2 linked regions of the Homo sapiens genome follow. The protein of the gene in region 1 interacts with the protein of each later gene in a pairwise test. Each region holds a gene or a part of one and is shown on either strand. Other genes may lie near its edges.

Evidence for each region.
Region 2: the proteins of CYB5A (region 1) and PROM1 interact in a protein complementation assay, tested with the Homo sapiens proteins (one study listed by IntAct).

Annotation. Positions count from the first base shown.
Region 1 is NC_000018.10:74,250,295-74,254,204, reverse strand, and holds the end of CYB5A (cytochrome b5), read left to right. Parts: intron 1-539; coding exon 540-621; 3' UTR 622-3,359; downstream 3,360-3,910.
Region 2 is NC_000004.12:16,080,905-16,088,422, reverse strand, and holds the start of PROM1 (prominin-1 isoform 1 precursor), read left to right. Parts: upstream 1-4,399; 5' UTR 4,400-4,445; intron 4,446-4,693; exon of another isoform or gene 4,694-6,318; intron 6,319-7,518. UniProt on the Homo sapiens protein: May play a role in cell differentiation, proliferation and apoptosis. Binds cholesterol in cholesterol-containing plasma membrane microdomains and may play a role in the organization of the apical plasma membrane in epithelial cells.

The sequences.
Region 1 (3,910 bases):
TTTGTTTATTTTTGTTAGTTTGTTTTTGAGACAGTCTCGCTCTATCACACAGGCTGGAGTGCAGTGGCGTGATCTCGGCTCACTGCAACCTCTGCCTCCCAGGTTCAAGCGATTCTCCTGCCCCAGCCTCCCAAGTAGCTGGGATTACAATTAGCTACTGCCACCACGCCCAGCTACTTTTTGTATTTTTTGGTAGAAGGTTTTTACTATGTTGGCCAGGCTGGTCTCAAACTTCTGACCTCAAGTGATCCGTCTGCCTTGGCCTCCCAAAGTGCTGGGATTACAGGCGTGAGCCACTGAGCCCAGCCAAGTGGGGCATGAGTTTTCTCATAAAGCCAGCAGGGCAGAGTGATTCCTAGTATAGCAGGGCATGTGTTACACTCATGTCACTTTTAGCAAATCCACGTTGCCTTTTCAGCAAAATTCATTACAGAGTTAAGAAAAACATGCCCTGGTAATTTTCTGTTAGAAGGAGCAAAGATTTTGAGTCCACCACAGTGCACATCATGTCAGCATCATTGCTTTTTGTGTCTTTCTAGTTGGTGGACCAACTGGGTGATCCCTGCCATCTCTGCAGTGGCCGTCGCCTTGATGTATCGCCTATACATGGCAGAGGACTGAACACCTCCTCAGAAGTCAGCGCAGGAAGAGCCTGCTTTGGACACGGGAGAAAAGAAGCCATTGCTAACTACTTCAACTGACAGAAACCTTCACTTGAAAACAATGATTTTAATATATCTCTTTCTTTTTCTTCCGACATTAGAAACAAAACAAAAAGAACTGTCCTTTCTGCGCTCAAATTTTTCGAGTGTGCCTTTTTATTCATCTACTTTATTTTGATGTTTCCTTAATGTGTAATTTACTTATTATAAGCATGATCTTTTAAAAATATATTTGGCTTTTAAAGTATGCACCGTGTTTGCCTGTTTGGTGTATAATTGTCTTTAATGTTTAGAATCTGGTTATTTAGAGGATTCCTTCAATGTGTTACTCATCCAGACCCACAGAGGCCATATGACTGGAGGTGCGGGAAATAGGTTTGAGTGTCTCCTTTCACATCGTCACATCTCATTGAGTAACCATGTATTGTATGCTTCCGATATAGTTTCTTTTTTTCAAGGAAATTAAGAAAGGCCAGAAATTATAGTTTAAGGATTTCTAATAATTGTCCTACTTGAAATAGATCTTAAAAAGAAAGTAGCGGCTGGGCATCGTGGCTCACACCTGTAAGCCCAGCACTTTGGGAGGCTGAGGTGGGTGGATCACTTGAGGTCAGGAGTTCAAGACCAGCCTGACCAACATGGTGAAACCCTGTCTCTACTAAAAATACAAAATTAGCAGGGCGTAGTGGCGCATGCCTGTAATCCCGGCTACTTGGGAGGCTGAGGCAGGAGAATTGCTTGAACCCAGGAGGCAGAGGTTGTAGTGAGCTGAGATCGCGCCGTTGAACTCCAGCTGGGCAACAAGAGTGAAACTCTGTCTCAAAAAAAAAAGAAAGTAGCCTACAGGGCCTATAAGAGAGACTTCTTATCTTCACTGATTGAAAAACATCAGCAACTTAAAAACACATGAACCATGAGAGGGCATCGCAACTGTCCATTCTCTCAGCTTACACGTATCATTGCAAAGGCACTCACAGCTTCATAGGTTCTAAAGTTTTAAGAATTCCTCATTCAGAGAGTAGAATTGTTTGTAAACTCTTCTAAGGAAAGGCTGGTTTTCTAATTTGTAAGGAGATTGTGGGACATTGGAATCTGATCTTTGAAGAAATTTAGCGGCTAGTGTCAAGCTCTGAAGAGTTCTGGTGTGGCTCTGTCTCCTCCTGGGGGCTCTAAGGGGCTGATTCAGTCATCTTACTTCCCATTTATTATTCTCTGCCTTATGTGTTATTCTTTTAAATGTGGAAACTTGAAAGCTGAATTTGTTAGAACCCAGTACATGTGTCATTGGCTGTGACTGCATTTGCACTGGCATGAGCTGACAAACCACGAGGTTCTTCAGAAGTGACCGCGTGCAGTGGAAAGGAATTGTGTTGTTCTTACAGAGTACAACCTTTATAATCAAATAGGATGCACCGCCTTTGCCTTCTTTAGTCACTGAAAGTTGACAAGTAGTTTCTATTTCAAAATAAATTACAACACTTGTTAAGGGACCTATGTAAATATTTCAATATTTTTGGTTGTGATTTTTAGCTATAAAGCTTCACATTTTAGTAGTTTTTAAAACATTGCTCCTAAATCAACTATGAAGTGAATCGAAGTGGGTCAGTCGTACCTTAGATGACATTAAAGGGTTAACTTGTAAATCATTTTTAAGATGTTGAGTAATAGCATCTGTATATCGTTAAGAAACATAACAGTTGAACTTTGACATTTTTATCAGTGACTCAGCAATTTGCTGCTGTGGCTGGCAATGTTTCTTCATGTGTTTTGGGAACAACATGTGGAGTAAAGGAGAGTTTACTTCCTAATTTTAACATTTACAGTTTGTGCAGCCAGACTCTCAAGGAAAGATATTTGACACTTTTTTCTCTATTGCTTTCCCTTCAGAGAGGTGAGAGACTTCAGAGGCTGCCCTTTCTTTTCATCTGCTGCTTGTGAAAGGAAAACATCTTGGGCCCCCAGAATCACTAAGGAAAACTCAAGCTGGAAACTGCTTAGGGCCAACCTGCCTCCCATTCTACTCAGTCAAGCCTCTGCTCACTGAGAGAGAGGCATATCTGATTGCTTCCTTTGGAAAGGCTAATCAGAAACTCAGAAGAATGCAACCCTTTGTGTCTCACCTCTCTGTGACCTGGAAGCTCCCTCCTGCTTTGAGTCTTCCTGCCTTTGCTTCAAGGTGTCCCGCCTTTCCAAACAGAACCAATGTACTTCTTACATATATTGATCAATGTCTCATGTCTCCCTAAAATGCATAAAACCAAGCTGTGCCCTGACCACCTTGGGTACATGTCATTAGGACCTCCTGATGCTTTGTCACGGGCATGTCCTCAACCTTGGCAAAGTAAACTTTCTTTTTTTTTTTTTTTTGTTTTTGAGACAGAGTCTCACTCTGTCGCCCAGGCTGGAGTGCAGTGGTATGATCTTGGCTCACTGCAACCTCCGACTCCCAGGTTCAAGTGATTCTCCTGCCCCAGCCTCCTGAGTAGCTGGGACTACAGGCGTATGCCACCATGCCTAGCTAATTTTTTTGTATTTTTAGTAGAGACGGGATTTCACCATGTTAGCCAGGCTGGTCTTGAACTCCTGACCTCAGGCAATCCACCCGCCTCAGGCTCGCAAAGTGCTGGAATTACAGGCATGAGCCACTGTGCCGGGCCTATTCCTTGACTTTCTTAATAAAGTTGTTTTCACTTTGCACTGCGGACTTGCCCTGAATTCTTTCATGTGCGAGGTCCAAGAACCCTCTCCTGGGGTCTGGATTGGGACCCCTTTCCTGTAACACAGGGACTGTATTGGGTGCACGTGTGTCAGTTGCTCACCTCCTGGGTTTGAGTTGATGATTAGGGCTCTGGTTGGAACAGGCATCTCCCTTCCTCTGGAGGTGTCTAGATGAAGGCAAGTGGAAGTTCTGGAAGCAGATTCTCCTTTGCAGCGTAGCCTTTCTGAGAGGTGTGCAGACACAGATGGCGTCCGGATCCTCAGCTTCTACCTAGATTGTGGGAGTTTCCCTAGGCTGCTGTAACCAAGTACACCACAACTGGGTGGCTTAGAACGACAGAAATGTGTTCTCATAATTTAGAGGCCAGACGTTGTAAATGAAGGTTTCAGCTGGGCCACTCGCCCTCCGACACTCTGGGTGGAATCCTTCCTCACCTCTTCCAGCTGCCACTGGTGGCCAGCAGTCCTCACCTGGCGGTCCTCACCTGACAGTCCTCACCTGGCGGTCCTCACCTGACAGTCCTCACCTG
Region 2 (7,518 bases), on another chromosome or scaffold:
TAAGGACTTACTCCTGCTCTTTATTTGCTTTTTGGTTGTTTTGGGGTCTTCTCTTCCTTCTTTCATTTCTCCCTGTCTGCCTTTTAGCAAAGGTAATTTTCTCTGGTGGTATGATTTAATAGCTTGCTTTTTATTTTTGTGTATTCATTGTGTTTCTTTGACTTGAAGTTCTCGTGAGCCTTGCAAATACTATCTTCTTATAACCCACTATTTTATGTTAGTAATTACTTAACACTGATTACATAAACAAAGAAAACTAATAAGAGCTCTACACCTTAACTTCCTCCCCTTGCTTCTAAACTCTTTGTTGTTTCTCCTTATATTTTATTGTGCTGTCTATGTCTTGACAAGTTGTCGTAGTTATTATTTTTGATTGGTTCATCATTTAGTCTTTCTACTTAAGATAAGAGTAGTTTACACACCACAGTTACAGTGTTATAACATTCGGTGTTTTTCTGTGTACTTACGATTACCAGGGAGTTTTATATCTTCAGATGATTTCTTATTGCTTGTTAACATCCTTTTCTTTCAGATTGAATAACTCCTTGTAGCATTTCTTGTAGGACAGGTCTGGTGTTGATGAAATCCCTCTGCTTTTGTTTGTCTGAGAAAGTCTTTATTTCTCCTTCATGTTTGAAGAATATTTTTGCTGTATATATTATTCTAGGGTAAAAGTTTTTTCCCTCCAGCAGCTTAAGTATGTCACGCCACTCTCTCCTGGGCTGTCAGGTTTCCACTGAATAGTCTGCTGCCAGATGTATTGCAGCTCCATTGTTTGTTAATTCTTTCTTTTCTTTTGCTGCTTTTAGGATCCTTTATCCTAGACCTCTGGGAATTTGATTATTGCATGCCTTGGAGTAGTCATCTTTGGGTTTATCTGCTAGGTGTTCTATACAATTCTTGTATTTGGATATTGATACTTTTCTATAGGTTTGAGTGGTTCTCTGATATTATCCCTTTGAATAATCTTTCTACCCCATCTCTTTCTCGACCTTGTCTTTAAGGCCAGTAACTCTTAGATTTGCTTTTTTAGGTAATTTTCTAGATCTTGTAGGCATGCTTCATTATTTTTTATTCTTTTTTCTTTGTCTTCTCTGACTGTATTTTCTAATAGCCTGTCTTTAAAAGTGCACTATTTCTTCTCCTTAATCAATTCTGCTATTGAAAGACTCTGATGCATTCTTCAGTATGTCAGTTGCATTTTTAAACTTGAGAATTTCTGCTTGATTCTTTAAAATTATTTCAATATCTCTATTAAATTTATCTGATAGAATTCTGAATTCTTTTTCTGTGTTATCTTAATTTTCTCTGAGTTTCTTCAAGATATTGATTTTGAATTCTCTGTCTGAAACATCACATATCTCTATTTCTCCAGGGTTGTTCCCTGGGGACTTATTTAGTTTGTTTGGTGAGGTCATGTTTTCCTGGGTGGTCTGGAAGCTTTTGGATATTCATTGGTGTCTGGGCATTGAAGACCACCCCAAGAGCCTGCTTAGTACTCTACCTCCCTGTGGCTGAGCTGGTACCTAAGGGGAAGGAAAACATCCTCTTTACTTTTCCTTCTGCTTTTGTCAAGCAGAAGGAGTCTCTCACATTAGCCACCACAGTTGGGAATATACTGGGTCTCACCTGAAACCAGCAGATCTCAGAGTCACACCCAAGAACCACAGTGTACTACCTGAGTATTGCTTCTGGCTATTGAGAACCCAAGGGCTCTTTAGCCAACAGGTGATGGGTCCTGCCCAGACTGTTTCTTTCCCTTCAAGGCAGCAGTTTCCCTTCTGGCCCAGGATGTGTCTAGAAATGTTATCCACAAGTTAGGACCTGGGATGGGGGTCTGATGACTCAGACTGATGCCCTGTCCTACTGTGGCTAAACTGATATTCAAGATAACAAAGTCCTCTTTACTCTTCCCCCTCTTCTCTTCAAGCAGAAGGAATGGGTCTCTTCGTGCTGTTTTTAATCACTCCAGCCACTAGCATTGGGACTGATGCAGACACTAAGGATCCAAATGATTATTTTTGTTTTGTTTTTTTAACTGCATTGGGATTAGGCAACAGAAGGGTCTAATGTGGCTGAGAGTTTTTGAGAGAGGAGCATTTTTAGGAGGGTAGCTGCATTCCAAGTAGAGAGCTCTGCTGGGGTAAAAGAGGCATGAGTGCTAGAAAAGGGCATGCAGTGATGAAGAGCCACTAACAGCACTACCTGGGGTTGGGGTAGGGGTGTCACAAGCACTCCCTTAGCTCCCCTGTCTGGTGTCTCAGTAAGTCGCATGCCCTCCAAGTCTACTGGCTCTGAGCTCAGCATTTGGGCTTGCTTAGGAGTTGCTGTCCTTGTGGCCTAGGCTGCCTTTAAGGTTATTTGGGGCCCCAGAGCACTTTACTGAAACTCAAGTTTTCACCACTGGTATGGGCTATTTCCTCTGAGGGAAATTGGCTGAGTTCAGCCTAGTTTTGCTTTCTGCTATGACAGAGCAGTACTGAGTTCAATTCAAAGTCTCCCAATCACTGCACTCTCCCTTTCCCAAGCCACAAGGCTGCTGCTGCTGGGGGATGGAGGACTGGCGGCATTGGCAAATCAAAACTGTCTTTCCTGGCTTCTTCAGTGCCTCTTTCAGTAATATGAAATTAAAACCAGGTATTGTGGTTACTCACCTGATTTTTGGTTCTTATAAAGGTGCTTTTTGTGTGTGTAGATAGCAGTTAAATTGTGTTCCTAGCCGGGGTGGGGGGTGGGTGGTCAAACCTTCTATTTGACCATCTTGCTTCACCCCTTTCTACTGATACTATTGTTGTTGATATTATTAGGAATGAAAATGAGCCCTGTGAGTTATAATTGTCTTCATTTTGCAGACCAGGAAACTGAGGCTCAGAGAAATATTAAGCAGCCAAAGTCACAGCGATTAAAAGAGGCGGGACCAAACTTTGACGGAGATCAGGACCCACTCCTTTGAGAAATCACCTCTTTTGCTAGCTCCAGCCTAAAAGTGCTATCTAGGAGAAGGTTTATGGGACCCCAGCAGATGTTCAACCAGAAACTTCTGACCTGCAGGGGCTGCAGAGGGGAAATCTGCCCTGATTAGAAGAGATTTGTTTTCCACCCATATTAGTTTGATCTCACATTGCTATAAAGAACTACCTGAGACTGGGTTTCAGAGGCTGTACCGTAGGCATGGCCAGAGAGGCTTCAGGAAACTTACAATTATGGTGGAAGAAGGGAAAGCAAGCACATCTTCACATGGCAGAAGGAGAGACAGAGCGAGCAAAGGGGAAGTGCCACACACTTTTAAATCATCAGATATCCTGAGAACTCACTCACTATCATGAGAACAGCAAGGGAGAAATCCGCCCTCATAATCCAATCACCTCCCACTAGGTCCCTCTCCCAGTGAATTATAATTCAATATGAGATTTGGATGGGGACACAGAGCCAAACCATCTAACCTTGCCATGTCCTACTGTACTTTTTGGAAGTTTTCTGAACTAACATTTCTTGTCTAGAAATATACACACTCAAGATCAATCTAACTATTAAAAACAAAAAATGCTTATTTTCCAGTACCTGTTTTATGTTAGATTCTGGGGTAAAAAGAAAAAGGTACTGACTTAATGTTCCTGTCTATCATTCATTTGTAGCTTGTGCATCCATCCTTTCATCTGTCTATCCATATCACAAACATGTATTAAACACCTGCTGTATGCTAGACACCATCCTGAAGGTGCATTTCTTCCCTAAGTCTTTTTTTTGCCTGCCGGAGAGTACAGTATTCTCAATTCAAGATAAGAAGTGGTGAATAAGAGTGAAGTGCAAATTGGTGAGGACACTTAGACACCGAGTGATTACTTCTGACAGGTTTCCACCACTCAGCTAAGTAGCAAGGTGAAGACTCCGAGGTTGAGTTGTAACTCACAGAGCGGGAAGACCAATAGGCAGTGAGAAAAGAAGTTGCAGTGGCTTCACGTTATAGCAGATGCCTGTGTGTACACATGGGAGCGAATATGGCTTTATGCTGTTTTTCAACCGCTTCAGCCACTAGCATTGGTACTGCTGCACACTAAGGATCCAAATGATTGTTTTTTTGTTTTTTGTTTTGTTTTGTTTTGTTTTGTTTTGTTTTAAATTGCATTGGGATTAGGCAACAGAAGGGTCTAATGCGGCCGGGATGAGACAGGAGAGTTTTTAGGAGGGTAGCTGCATTCTAAGTAAGGGACTCTGCGGGGGGAAAAGAGGCGCAAGCGTTGCAAGAAGGGAGTGCAGGGGGTTGAGCAGGCACCTCTACAGGAAATGGATGCTGTCCAGGTGCTGGTGGGCGCCCCAGGGCTACGTGGCGAAGCAGCTCAGCCGGTCCAATCAGAGTGCGTCCAGGGCTCGGGTTTCGCGATCTTTAAGTGACTGAGGCAGATCCCCACGCGGCACCTGGCCATGCTCTCAGCTCTCCCGCCGCGGTGAGTATGTTTAAGGAATCCTTTCCATTACGGCGGCCCCATACCTAGGTCCCCGTCCGGGACAGAGGAAGCCGCAACGGGTCCCCCCGGGCACCCGGGCCTTTCTCCTGCCTCCCGCCACGTCCGAGGGTCCGGCCGCAGCGCCGCCTGAGCCCCTCCGCGGCCGGCAGTGGGAGGCGGGCTCTCCGAAAGCCGTCGCGGTGGTCCCAGAAGCCGGGTCATAAATAATTCACGAGCCAGGGTCTGGCGAGCTAAGGGAAGGGCGGCGGCAGCGGTGACTAGGGCGGGAGCAGGAGCGGGAGCCGGGTGCACGGTGAGTAGCTGGGTCCTCATCCCGGAGCGAGAGAGGCATCTGCTGACCAGGCGCGGGGCTGAGCGCACTCCTTCCACTGTACTGGGGGTGTACAGTGAGGAGTGGACGGGTTCGCTCTGCGCCCCCCTTACCCTAGCCATCTGCGCCGCCTCCCTGGCCCCTCAGCAGGTGGTGCGGGCCCGGACAGCGGCTGGGGGCCAGAGGAACTGCGGGGAGAGCGTGGTGGTGCCGGTGCCCGTCCAACCCAAACTTTTTAGTCTGAGTGGTGGCCCGCGACGCCCCGCTTGGGTCTTCTTTCCATCCACTGGGGATGGGGGCGGGGGTGGGGGTAGCCGGCGGCCGTGGTTCCGGAGCGGGAGTCGGAGGTGAGTGTGCGAACTGGACCGGGGCCCCAGAGACTTCGGACTCGCTCTCGGGGAGAACGGTGACCGAGGTGAGACTCGCCAGGGTCTTGGGAACGAGTCTGCGGTAAAGGAAACTCTAGGGATGGCCCCGGGGACGTGAGGCGCTGAGCTTCCCTGGCTGAGTGCGGAAATGGGCCAACACTGTGCAGCCGACCACAGCGGGAGTAGGGATATGGGGGTACAAAGCGAGGCCATCTCCCCGCGTCCGTGGGAGAAAGCATGCACCCCTGGCTTGAAGCACCTTCCCAGCCTCTCGCTCCACGGCCCTTCTGCTTGCATGCGCGGGGACCCGCGGCTATCGCTAGATGGAGAACTGGGGTGCTCAAGGCGCACCCTGCCAGAACACGCCGACCGGACAACAAAGAGGAGCGTGGACAGACCAGGAGCTTCACGGCTGTAGAAAGTCAGAGGCTCGGGATCAGTTTCCCCGAAAGCCCGTGTCTGGAGGGGCAGGGAGTCGGATCGGAGGGAGGAACTAGCTCCAGAACCCCTTCTCTCTGGCAAGATCGCCCCCGATCGGTGCCCAACAGGGGCCGCGGCGGGGAACTGGCGCCGACGCGCTCAGAGCAGCCAAGTTACTCCGGCAACCCCCTCCCCTGCGCGGCTGCGAATTCCTGGAGTCTCTTGGCTTCCCGCGCCCGCCCCGCCGCTCATTCTTTTGTGTCCCGCAGCTCGCGAGAGGCTTCCGCCCAGAAGGGAGCTAGGCCTGGAGGGGGCTTGGCCTGGAGGTGGTTTGGAGGTAAAGGGCGGGGAAGCCGGCGCCCCAGGCTTCATTCTGCAACAGGTTGCTCCTGGAGCCCGCTAAGGCGACTGACCTTTCTGGAGAAAGGTTTGCTGGAGTTCCTGAGGGCGGCAGCTGTTCTTTGTTAAGAAAGCAAGTGCACGATCGTAGTTCTTGAGTGCCCCCCGAGACTCATGCGACACGAACAACCGCTGCGATATGTTGGGTTGAATCATAAGAAATTGTCGGTTTTTTGGATGGAAGATGTGAATATCGTCAACCTCATATGATTCAACTTGTGTGATGTTACTCATTTTTCTTTTCTCACCGTCCTTTCTGTCCCGGTTATCCTAGGAGCCCCGGTGGAGTTGAGCTCAGAGTATTGATGCTAGCAGAAGCAGACAGACCCCAGATAGCCTTCCAGCTGCGTGCCAGGTGCTTTACCTATTAGATCGCTAGCCTGCGAACCCTATGCGAAATCCTCCTTTGACAGAGGAGCAGAAGAAGGGTTGGAGAATTCAAACAACTGTCATCTTGGCAGAGTTAGTAAGGGGGACCAGAGCCCCCTTACTGTTGCTGTTGTCTGTCTATTCAGCAGTGCCCTTTAGTTTATTCTTGTTTTTTTTTTCATGTGTTCCATAATTTTTTTCTAAACTTCCTTCTGATTTCTAAACTTTTCTAAACTTCTTTCTGATTTCTAAACTTCCTTCTGATTTTTATACGAGACAGTTTCTTTGTGTTTTAGTACAATGAGGTGAACAAATGCATCAGAGGACAAGCTGAAAACTTTAAACCAAGTTGGTACTGTTTAAAATATAAAGGAAATAGGTTTTTCAGGGAGCAAAGAGCTATTTCTGAGATTTGTTAAGGGTCAAGATACTTTGTTAAAACAGTGGAAGCTGAGTCGGGGGTAATTTTTATCAGATAAAGGACTTCTTGGATTCTGTAAGTTGCCTGTTCACTCTGATGGTAGTTTCTTTTGCTCTGCAGAAGCTCTTTAGTTTAATTAGATCCCATTTGTCAATTTTGGCTTTTGTTGCCATTGCTTTTGGTGTTTTAGACATGAAGTCCTTGCCCATGCCTATGTCCTGAATGGTATTGCCTAGGTTTTCTTCTAGGGTTTTTATGGTTTTAGGTCTAACATTTAAGTTTTTAATCCATCTTGAATTAATTTTTGTATAAGGTGTAAGGAAGGGATCCAGTTTCAGCTTTCTACATATGGCTAGCCAGGTTTCCCAGCACCGTTTGTTGGGAATTGAACAATGAAAACACTTGGACACAGGAAGGGGAACATCACACACCGGGGCCTGTTGTCAGGTGGCGGGAGTGGGGAGGGATAGCATTAGGACATATACCTAATGTAAATGACGAGTTAATAGGTGCAGCACACCGACATGGCACATGTATACACATGTAACAAACATGCACATTGTGCACATGTACCCTAGAACTTAAAGTATAATAAAAAAATATATATACATATACATATATATATGTATATGTATATATATAAAAGGACTTCTTGAAAGGATGGTCCCTGGGTGGCTTAGGTAAGTGGCAGCAAGGCTGGCTAGCCAGGCTTAGGAATCTAGGACATGCCACAGGACCCCTGATGGGTGGGTGGCTGCGGCTGCC